3 linked regions of the Homo sapiens genome follow. The protein of the gene in region 1 interacts with the protein of each later gene in a biochemical or structural test. Each region holds a gene or a part of one and is shown on either strand. Other genes may lie near its edges. The genes, in order: ABL2, ERBB3 and CRK.

Region 1 (3,651 bases):
ATAGTATGAGCTAAATGTGTGTAGCTGCTGCCATTACTAATACTACTGTTATTATTAAAAACAGGAGTAATTCGGCCAGGTGCGGTGGCTCACGCCTGTAATCCCAGCACTGTGGGAGGCCGAGGTGGGCAGATCATGAGGTCAGGAGTTCGAGACCAGCCTGAGCAACATGGTGAAACCTCGTCTGTACTAAAAATAGAAAAATTAGCTGGGCATGGTGGCACGCGCCTGTAGTCCTAGCTACTCAGGAGGCTGAGACAGGAGAATCGCTTGAACCCGGGAGGTGGAGGTTGCAGTGAGCCAAGATCGCGCCACTCCAGCCTGGGTGACAGAGCGAGACTCTGTCTCAAAAAAAAAAAAAAAAAAAAAGTAGGGATAATTCAAAGATGACACCAGGATTTAGAACCTGGCTAACTGGGATGATGAAGATTCTATTGACAAGTTTGGAAGTTAGAAGCTGATTGAAAAAATGGGAATAGGTCGAGTTTATTGCCAAAGACTAGTATGAAAAGAAAGGAATTAGCAAATAATATAGGAAACAAAGGTGCAGTGAGTACTGTTTTTTAGACAGATGGGTTTAAAAAGTTTTTTTCTGTACATCATAGTTTCTTTTTTTTTTTTTTTTTTTTTTTTTTTGAGGCGGAGTCTCACTCTGTCGCCCAGGCTGGAGTGCAGTGGCGCGATCTCGGCTCACTGCAAGCTCCGCCTCCCGGGTTCACGCCATTCTCCTGCCTCAGCCTCCCGAGCAGCTGGGACTACAGGCACCTGCCACCACGCCCGGCTAATTTTTTTTTGTATTTTTAGTAGAGACAGGGTTTCACCGTGTTAGCCAAGATGGTCTTGATCTCCTGACCTCATGATCCGCCCTCTTCGGCCTCCCAAAGTGCTGGGATTACAGGCATGAGCCACCGCTTCCGGCCACGTCATAGTTTCTTAACCTCGGCGGCATTGATATTTTGGGCTGGCTAATTCTGTGTTTTGGGGGGCTGTCCTGTGCATTGTAGGATGTTTAGCAGCATCCCTGGACTCTACCCACTAGATGCCAGTAGCACCTTCTTTTTGCCCCTTACTTGTTATAAAAATGCCTCCAGACATTGTTAAATCTCTTGGGGGGCAGAATTGCCCCTAGTTGAGGACACCACTTAGAAATGTGATAGATTCTGAATTGAATGAATGAATGAATGAATTAGATTCGAAAGCTTCTCAGTGGATGTATCATTTGACCTTTACATGGTAAATGTAGGTGCTCGAATCTAGTGTACAAATTACTGTCTTGAGTTTGCCATATTGAGGTATTAGCACATAATTTCATATATGAATGTTAGGTCTGTTAGACTCTTGGGTTTACATGTAGGTTTTAATATAAGCCAAATAATACATTTAGTTAATCAGTAAAAAGGTACATACATTATGGAAATGGTTTATCAGAGTCCAGGACTTTTCTTTCTTTAGCTAAAATGGTCATTTTTTATCGTTAATAATATGTGGGTAAGCTGTGATAATAATTTGCCTTGCCAAAAGTGATTTTTGTGAATGTAATTTAGAAGGAACAAAAATAATAGAGCCATTTTTGGTATGAAAGGAGTGAGTGCTGTGTGACTTTTCTGAGATCTGCTATTTTTTTTGTCAACTCTTTTATTTTATGTTTTATTTTAGAGAAAGGTCTTGCTCTGCCACCCAGGCTGGAGTGCAGTGCTGCGATCGTAGATCGCTGCAGCCTTAAACTCCTGGACTCAAGCAATCCTCCTGCCTCAGCCTCCCGAGGAGCTGAGACTACAGGCACACGCCATCACACCTGGGTAATTTTGTGTTTTTTTTTTTTTTTTTGTAGAGACGGAGGTCTCACTATGTTGCTCAGGCTGGTCTCAAACTCCTAGGCTCAGGTGATACTCTGCCTCGGCCTCCCAAAGTGCTGGGATTATAGGCGTGAGCCACTGCGAGAGGCAAGCTCTGCTATTAAACCTTTCTGGTGAGCTGATGTTTCATGACTAATAATCTAGGGTTGAATACTTACTTGCTGTTGAATATCTCACATACCTTTTAACAGCTGAATGATTTTACTTTAGCTTCCCTCTCTCATTTTCTAAAAATTCTATTAAAAATTAACTTTAGGCTGGGCGTGGTGGCTCACACCTATAATCCCAGCACTTTGGGAGGCCGACGTGGGCAGATCACCTGAGGTCAGGAGTTCGAGATCAGCCTGGCCAACATGGTGAAACCCTGTCTCTACTAAAAAAATACAAAAATTAGCCAGGTGTGGTGGCGGGCACCTATAGTCCCAGCTACTCAGGAGGCTGAGACAGGAGAATCCCCTGAACCCCGGAGGCGGAGTTTGCAGTGAGCCGAGATCGCGCACCTGCACTCCAGCCTGGGCGACAGAGCAAGACTCCGTCTCCAAAAAAACCAACAAACAAAAACCCTTACATTATGAAGTTTGGAATAACAAAAATTTTTCCTTAAATCAAACTCATTATTTTAAGTGATCTGATTTATTTATTTATTTTTTATTTTGGATCTGTAGTTTTTTTTTTTTTTTTTTTTTTTTGTAGTGAGTAGGGTCTCACTCTCTTGCCCAGGCTGGAGTGCATTGGCGAGATCATGGCTCACTGCAGCCTTGACCTCCCAGACTCAAGTGATCCTCTCACCTCTCAGCCTCCTGAATACCTGGGACTATAGGTGCACGCCACCATGCCTTTCTATTTTTTTTTTTTTTTTGTAGAGACAGAGTTTTGCCATGTTGCCCATGGTGGTTTTGAACTCCTGGGCTCAAGTGATCTGCCTGCCTTGCCCTCCCAAAGTCCTGAGATTACAGGTGTGAGCCACCGCACCCGGCCAGTAGTTCATGTTTTAATCTTTGTGGAATGAAGGCTGTTGGCACCCCAGGTTGAAAACGATGCTATGGAAAGCACAGGAAGGCTGTTGTGAGGGAATTTTAATTGTGGTGACTTAATATAAGAACTAAACTTCATTTTTTATTTTTATTTATTTTTCTTTTTTTCTTGAGTGCCAATCCTGCAGACTAAACTTTTAAAAAAAAATCAGCTGTTAGATTTTTATTAATCTCCAAATCTGTGTAAGTTATAGATGTGTAGTTGGGGTCCATATTTTTAGCAAAGTAATAAGTTGTGGTACAGATTCTGTTCTCATAGCCCACTTGGCAGTAAAATTCCAAGTAAAGTGATGAAGTCTGAAGTTTCTCTGTAAGGGTCTTCAGCCTGCTTTATTCGATAGTTTATTTATTTACTTAGGTGGTTTTTTTTTTTTTTTGAGACAGGGTCTTGCTCTGTTGCCTAGGCTGGAGTGCTGTGGCATGATGATAGCTCACTGCAGCCTCAAACTCCTGGCTGAAGCCATTCCTGACTCAGCCTTCTGGGTAGCTGGGACTATAGGTGCGTGCTACCATGCCTGGCTAATTTTTAAATTTTTCTGTAGAGATGGGGTCTTGCTGTACTGGGCCAGGCTGGTCTTAAATTCCTAGGCTCAAGTGATTCTCCCACCTTGGCCTCCCAAAGTGCTGGGATTACAGACATGAGGCCCTGCATCTGGACTTTTTTTTTTTTTTTTTTTTTTGAGAGGGAGCCTTGCTCTGTCTCCCAGCCTGGAGTGCAGTGGCGCGATCTTGGCTCACTGCAACCTCCTCCTCCTGGGTTC
Region 2 (3,651 bases), on another chromosome or scaffold:
GCCACTGGAAAGGAAGGGGTGGGTTAGGAGAGGAGTCTGAGGACTCCCAGCAAGCCCTCTCTTCATTATTCTTCCTCGTTACTGCTTCCAGCCTAACAGCCCCCTTCTCCTTGGTTCCATCCCTCAACCCTACTCCCACGTCTAGGGCAGAATAGTCCTTTCAGCCCTCTCCTCCCTGACTCCCTATTCTCACCACCTAGCAGACCCTTTCCCTCACCGCAGTCTCTGCGCGGCCGATTATGCTTGATGTCTAGTCGCTCTTCCGTAGGCCCCCGAAGCACCTTGGTCCAGTTCAAAGAGTGGTGGTAGCAGAGCTGCCTATTGGCACTTATATAGATACGCCCAGCACTAATTTCCTTCAGGGATCGGAAGCCCAGAGATGTGACATTCAAGTTCTTCATGATCAACAATGAGAAGCCCCGGCTGAGAATAAGGAGACAGGATGAGAGGAGAGACTACTAAGGGAACATTAACTATTCAAAGGATTCATGTTAGTCAAGAAATTTGCTCAGTGCTAGTCAGATCCACTGAGAGGGAATCCCCCTCCTTTTGCCTTTTCCTCGTGAAACTCTGAAACCCTTTGGTTTTGAGGCACTGCTGTATGAGACAGTGCCTTGTATTTTACTAAAGAATGCCTATGACACAGGCTTCATTGCCTGAAGATGCCATTTCCTCCATACCCTTTACTCACTTGTAGAGGCTTCTGCCTCCAATGGTTGTCAAATTGGAAAAAACACTGAAGTTGTGCATGTGGGGCGGCCAGGACTGGATGTTCAGGTAACCTGAGGGGTTGGAGAGAGGCATATGGGCAGGGAGCCTTCTTCTTTCTTGGGTTCTCCTGGCTCCTCCCCTATAACTTGGGACGTGATTTTCTCAAGTAGTTATACCGCAATTTATGCCAGTGGTTCACCTATTCTTCTAGAAAGGGCAAACTCTCTGCCACTCACCTGTGATCTCCCGTACTGTCCGGAAGACATTGAGCTTCTCTGGGTCCAGGGCAGGGATCTTGTGCCAGGGGTCTCTGAATAGAACAGTAGAAACCAGTCAATAAGGTAAAGGTATAACTCAATGGCAATGAGCACACCCAGCCTCAGCATTTGGTTTCTAAATATCATTCTCCACTAAAAGGAAACATTCCTTGGAGAAATGGCTGGGATGGGGGAAATATAATATAAGCCCAGAGCATCTTGTGCAAACAAGACAAGACTCAAAGAATTAAGGGTACAGCCCAAAGAACACAGGAGCCAACTTGGAGGGGCTGGCTAAAATAAATAATGATTGTAAAGGATTATAACCATTGACTAGAATAAAATAAGTATCCATAAGAGTAAATAGGAAAGGAAGACCTTTTTTTTTTTTTTTTTTTTTTTTTTTTTTTGAGACAGAGTCTTGCTCTATCGCCCAGGCTGGAGTACAGTGGCAGCAATCTCAGCTCACTGCAACCTCCACCTCCTGGGTTCAAGTGATTCTCCTGCCTCAGCTTCCTAAGTAGCTGGGAATACAGGAGCACACCACCATGCCTGGCTAATTTTTTGTATTTTTAGTAGAGACAGGGTTTCACCATGCTGGCCAGGCTGGTCTTGAACTCCTGACCTTGTGATCCGCCCGCCTCGGCCTCCCAAAGTGCTGGAATTACAGGCATGAGCCACTGCACCTGGCCTTTTTTTTTTTTTTTTTTTAAGAGACAGGGTCTCACTCTGTTGTGCAGAGTGAGTGCACTGGCTGGAGAGCAGTAGTGCCATCATAGCTCACTGTAACCTTGAACTCCTGGGCCCAAGCAATTTTCCCACTGGCTCCCAAAGGGCTGAGATTACAGGCATAAGCCACTGTGCTCAGCTGGAAAGACTCTTCCTAACAGTAGAATGCCAACAAACAAATGCAGAAGGAATAATGGAATTAGAAAATTATCATTTGGCAACTATCATAACAATAATTGATTCAGGCAATTATCCCAAGACATTCATTAATTGTGAATGGAAAAATAGTAACTTTACAGTAGAAAAACCTGACAGATATCACCTTAACTAAGTGACCAGAGACATCATTGTGAGTGCTGGGACAAATCAACATCACGTACATCCTCAATAGGATGCCCTGAGCTCACAGCCTCTGTGGTGTTCTTATCAAACTCCAGCCTGGCAGCGGCGCATGCCTATAATCCCAGCACTTTGGGAGGCTGAGACAGGAGGATCACTTGAGCTCATGAGTTCGAGACCATCCTGGACAACATGGTGCAACCCTGTCTCTATAGAGAATGGCTTGAACCTGAGAGGTGGAGGTTGCGTGAGCTGAGATCACGCCACTGCACTCCAGCCTGGGCAACAAGAGCGAGACTCCGTCTCAAAAAAAAAAAAAAATATATATATATATACACACACATATATAAATATATAAATAGTATATAATATTTATGTTTATATATATTTATATATATTATTTATATATATATATTTATATTTATATATATTATTTATATATATATATATATATATATATATATAAAATTAGCCAAGCATGGTGGCATGCACCTGTAATCCCAGCTACTCAGGGGGCTGAGGTGCTCGCTTGAGCACGGGAGGCAGAGGTTGCAGTGAGCTGAGATCATGCCACTGTATTCCAGCCTGGGCAATAGAGCCAGACCTTGTCTCAAAAAAAAACTACAAAAACTTGAATCTAATCATGAGGACACATCAAACTAATCCAAACTGAAGAACATGCTGCCCATTACCTAATCTATACTCATCAAGAATATCATGAAAGATAAACAAAACCTGAGGAGCTGTTATAAAGGAGATTGAAGTGCCACGATAACTGAATGTAATGTATGATCCCAAACCTTAGGAGGACAATTAGTGAAATCTGAATAAGGTCTGTAGCTTAGATAATATTTTGTGTTAATGTTAATTTTCCGATTCAAACAACTATGCTGTGGTTATGTAAGAAAATATTATTTTTAAGGAATATACGCTGAAATATAACAGGGGTAAGAAAGAACCATGTGTGAAAATTTACCCTCACGTGGTCCAGAAAAACAATAGCATGTGTTTTGTGTGTGTGTGTGTGTGTGTAGAGAGAGACAGAGAGAGAGAGAAGTGATAAAGCGTATGTGGTATTTTTTTTGGCGGGGGACAGAGTCTCGCTCTTTCACCAGGCTGGAGTGCAGTGCCGCGATCTCGGCTCACTGCAACCTCTGCCTGCCAGGTTCAAGCTATTCTCCTGCCTCAGCCTCCTGAGTAACTGGGACTACAGGCGCACACCACCACGCCCAGCTAATTTTTGTATTTTTAGTAGAGATGAGGTTTCACCATGTTGGCCAGGATGGTCTCAATCTCTTGACCTCGTGATCCACACCTAGTGATCCACCTGCCTCAGCCTCCCAAAGTGCTGGGATTATAGGCATGAGCCACTGTGCCCGGCCATATGTGGTATGTTAACATTTGGAGGATCTGGGTAAAAGAGTGTATGGGGGGCCAGACGCGGTGGCTCACACTTGTAATCCCAACACTTTGGGAAGCTGGGGCGGGTGGATCACTTGAGGTCAGGAGTTCGAGACCAGCCTGGCCTACATGGTGAAACCCTGTCTCTACTAAAAATACAAAAATTAGCCGGGCATGATGGCACACACCTATAATTCCAGCTACTCAGGAGACT
Region 3 (3,651 bases), on another chromosome or scaffold:
GAGGAAAGACGGTGAAGATTGCCAAAGTTTATGGATGGGGTGTGGAAAATTCACGAGTATTGTGATAATTCTTTCTGCCATGTTGTACCCCATTTTCTACGATTCAGTTGCTGTCTTTTTCTCTCTTCTGAGACAGAGCCTCTGTCACCCAAGCTGGAGTGCAGTGGCATGAACACAGCTCACTGCAGCCTTGACCTCCTGGGCTCAAGCCATCCTCCCACTTCATCCTCCTGAGTAGCTGGGACTCCAGGCGTATCCACCATGCCTGGTTAACTGTTGAAAATTTTTTTGTAGAGATGAGGGGTCTCACGGTATTGTCCAGGCTGGTCTCAAATTCCTGATCTCAATAGACTTCATGCTTCAGGCTCCCAAAGTTTTGGAACTGCAGGTGTGAGCCACTGTGCCTGGTCAGTTGCTGTCTTTTTTTTTTTTTTTCTTTTTGAGACCGAGTTTTTACTCTTGTCTCCCACGCTGGAGCGCAATGGCGCGATATTGGCCCACTGCAACCTCTGCCTTCTAGGTTTAATCAATTCTCCTGCCTCAGCCTCCTGAGTAGCTGGAATTACAGGCGCCCACCACCATGCTCAGCTAATTTTTGTATTTTTTTAGTAGAGATGGGGTTTCACCATGTTGGCCAGGCTGGTCTCGAACTGCTGAACTCTGATCATCCACCCACCTCGGCCTCCCAAAGTGCTGGGATTACAGACGTGAGCCACCAGCGCCTGGCCTGTCTGTATAACCTCAGAATTACTTTGTACCTCACAAATCTCAAGTACTAAGTACTGAATCTTTGTTCTCCCCCTCACCAAGTCCTTTTGAAGTCACACAGAGAAATTTCTTGAATTTTTTAGAGAGGCGTATAGAATATTAATAACTAATGTTTATTGACTGGTTATTCTGTGCCAGGTACTTTGAGTACTTTATGTACCTTATTTCACTTACTGTCTAGGACAATCTAGTGAGATAAGTAATATGATCTCCATTTATTAAAATATTCCCATTTTATACAGGAGGAAACACTCATAGATTCAGTAACTTGCTTAAGGTCACACAACTAATAAATGACTTTCAGAAGTTGAACCTAGGCATTCTGACCTGAGAGCTGACCCTTTTACACTACACTCTCAAAGCCAGCGTTCTTTTGGCATCTCAGCAGTGCACATAGAGGTCCGTATCCTCAATATCCTCAATACTTTGCCTCTGCCCTGGAGTCTAAGACTTGGTGTTTTTTGTTTTGTTGTTTTTGGATGGAGTTTCGCTCTTGCCCCCCGGGCTGCTACAGTGCAGTGGTGCAGTCTCGGCTCACTGAAACCTCTGCTTCCCAGGTTCAAGTGATTCTCCTGCCTCAGCCTCCCGAGTAGCTGGGATTACAGGCATGTGCCACTGTGCCCAGCTAATTTTTTTTTTTGTATTTTTAGTAGACACGGGGTTTCACCATGTTGGCCAGGCTGGTCTCGAACTCCTGACCTCAGGTGATCCGCCCACCTCGGCCTTGTGTTTTTTGTTTTTTTTTCCCCCCACTATGTTGCCCAAACTGGAGTGCAGTGGCTGTTGACAGGCACAGTCATAGTGCACTACAGCCCTTAACTTTGGGGCAGGCAGCCCTTCTGACTCAGGCTGTGAGTAGCTGGGACTACAGGCACATACAGCCGCATCCAGCCCAGGTTTTTTAAAGACCAGAATTAAAGAATGGCAAGAAGAGGCCGGGCGCAGTGGCTCATGCCTGTAATTCCAGCACTTTGAGAGGCCAAGGAGGGTGGATCACTTGAGGTCAAGAGTTCGAGACCAGCCTGGCCAACATGGTGAAACCTTGTTTCTACTAAAAAATACAAAAATTAGCTGGGCGTGGTGGCGGACGCCTGTAATCCTAGCTGCTGGAGAGGCTAAGGCACGAGAATCGCTTGAACCCCGGAGGCAGAGGTTGCAGTGAGCTGAGATCGTGCCACTGGCTTTATTATTCAGACAATACACATCTGCTATCTAAAGTCAATGATGAAGAAGCTTTTTAAAATTGTTATTGCTTTTTTTTTTTTTTTTTTTGAGACAGTTTCTCGCTCTGTCACCGAGGCTGGAGTATAGTGGCACGACCTCGGCTCACTGCAAGCTCCGCCCCGTGGGGTTCATGCCATTCTCCTACCTCAGCCTCCCGAGTAGCTGGGACTACAGGCGCCCGCCACCACGCCCGGCTAATTTTTTGTATTTTTAGTGGAGATGGGGTTTCACCGTGTTAGCCAGGATGGTCTCGATCTCCTGACCTTGTGATCTGCCTGCCTCGGCCTCCTAAAGTGCTGGGATTACAGGTGTGAGCCACCGCGCCCGGCCTATTTGTTTTGTTTTGTTTTGTTTGAGAGGGAGTTTCGCTCTTGTTGCCCCGTCTGGAGTGCAGTGGCGCGATCTCAGCTCACTGTACCCTCCACCTCCTGGGTTCAAGCAGTTCTCCTGCCTTAGTCTCCCAAATAGCTGGGATTACAGGCATGCGCCACCATGCCCAGCCAATTTTTTTGTATTTTTAGTACAGACGGGGTTTTGCCACGTTGTCCAGGCTGGTCTTGAACTCCTGGCCTCAAGTGATCCGCTCGCCTCGGCTTCCCCAAAGTGCTGGGATTACAGGTGTGAGCCATCGCATCTAGCCTACAGAGTATATTTTGTTTACACAGTGCATAGGTGAAAATTATATGGAATGGCTTAGGTGTCATTTTTATGTGTTTTTTTTCTTTTTTTGAGACAGAATCTCGCTCTGTCGCCCACGCCGGGCCGGAGGGCAGTGGCGCGATCTCGGCTCACTGAAAGCTCCGCCTGCCGGGTTCACGTCATTCTCCTCCCTCAGCCTCCTGAGCAGCTGGGACTACAGGCGCCCGCCACTATGCCCGGCTAATTTTTTGTATTTTTAGTAGAGAGGTGTTTCACCGTGTTAGCCAGGATGGTCTTGAGCTCCTGACCTCGTGATCCGCCCACCTTGGCCTCCCAAAGTGCTGGGATTACAGGCCTGAGCCACCGCGCCTTATTTTTTAAACTTTATTTATGTTTTGAGACAGAGTCTTGCTCTGTTGCCCAGGCTGGAGTGCAGTGGGACGATCTCAGCTCACTGCAACCTCCCCCTCCCGGGTCAAGCCATTCTCCTGCCTCAGCCTCTTGAGTAGGTAGCTGGGATTACAGGCATGCGCCACCACTCCCAGCTAATTTTTTTGTATTTTTAGTAGAGATGGGGGTTTCACCATGTTGGCCAGGCTGGTCTCGATCTCCTGACCTCAAGTAATCCACCTGCCTTGACCTCCCAAAGTGTTAGGATTACAGGCGTGAGCCACCGTGCGCAGCTGGGTATTATTTTTAAAGGCATGGGTACAGAATGGGCCAGTGATTCTCAGCCTTTTCCGTTGAACCTGTTTTTAACTTGTCTTGGGTCCTCAGCTTGCATAGGCTTCCTGTGGTGCCATAGCTTGGGAGTTCCCTGGGGCCATAAGGAAGGGCTTGGCCAAGTCTACTGGTCACATTCTGTCAGGTTGGGCTTCAAGATGGACCTCCTTGGAATGCTTGCAAGAAACTAGTTTTTTTTCTCTTGAACAGCTAAACCTTTCAGGTTGACACAGCTGAAGGAGTGTGAGTTAGGAGAGTCGTTATAAGCTTGAGCTGTGGATCCTGGGTTGGGCCTTA

The links.
Region 2: the proteins of ABL2 (region 1) and ERBB3 form a complex in vitro, tested with the Homo sapiens proteins (2 studies listed by BioGRID and IntAct, with this or other methods).
Region 3: of the proteins of ABL2 (region 1) and CRK, one has a biochemical effect on the other in vitro, tested with the Homo sapiens proteins (2 studies listed by BioGRID and IntAct, with this or other methods).

Annotation. Positions count from the first base shown.
Region 1 is NC_000001.11:179,223,029-179,226,679, reverse strand, and holds part of ABL2 (tyrosine-protein kinase ABL2), read left to right. Parts: intron 1-3,651. UniProt on the Homo sapiens protein: Non-receptor tyrosine-protein kinase that plays an ABL1-overlapping role in key processes linked to cell growth and survival such as cytoskeleton remodeling in response to extracellular stimuli, cell motility and adhesion and receptor endocytosis.
Region 2 is NC_000012.12:56,090,117-56,093,767, reverse strand, and holds part of ERBB3 (receptor tyrosine-protein kinase erbB-3 isoform 1 precursor), read right to left. Parts: intron 1,022-3,651; coding exon 948-1,021; intron 783-947; coding exon 692-782; intron 424-691; coding exon 218-423; intron 5-217; coding exon 1-4. UniProt on the Homo sapiens protein: Tyrosine-protein kinase that plays an essential role as cell surface receptor for neuregulins.
Region 3 is NC_000017.11:1,449,582-1,453,232, reverse strand, and holds part of CRK (adapter molecule crk), read left to right. Parts: intron 1-3,651. UniProt on the Homo sapiens protein: Involved in cell branching and adhesion mediated by BCAR1-CRK-RAPGEF1 signaling and activation of RAP1.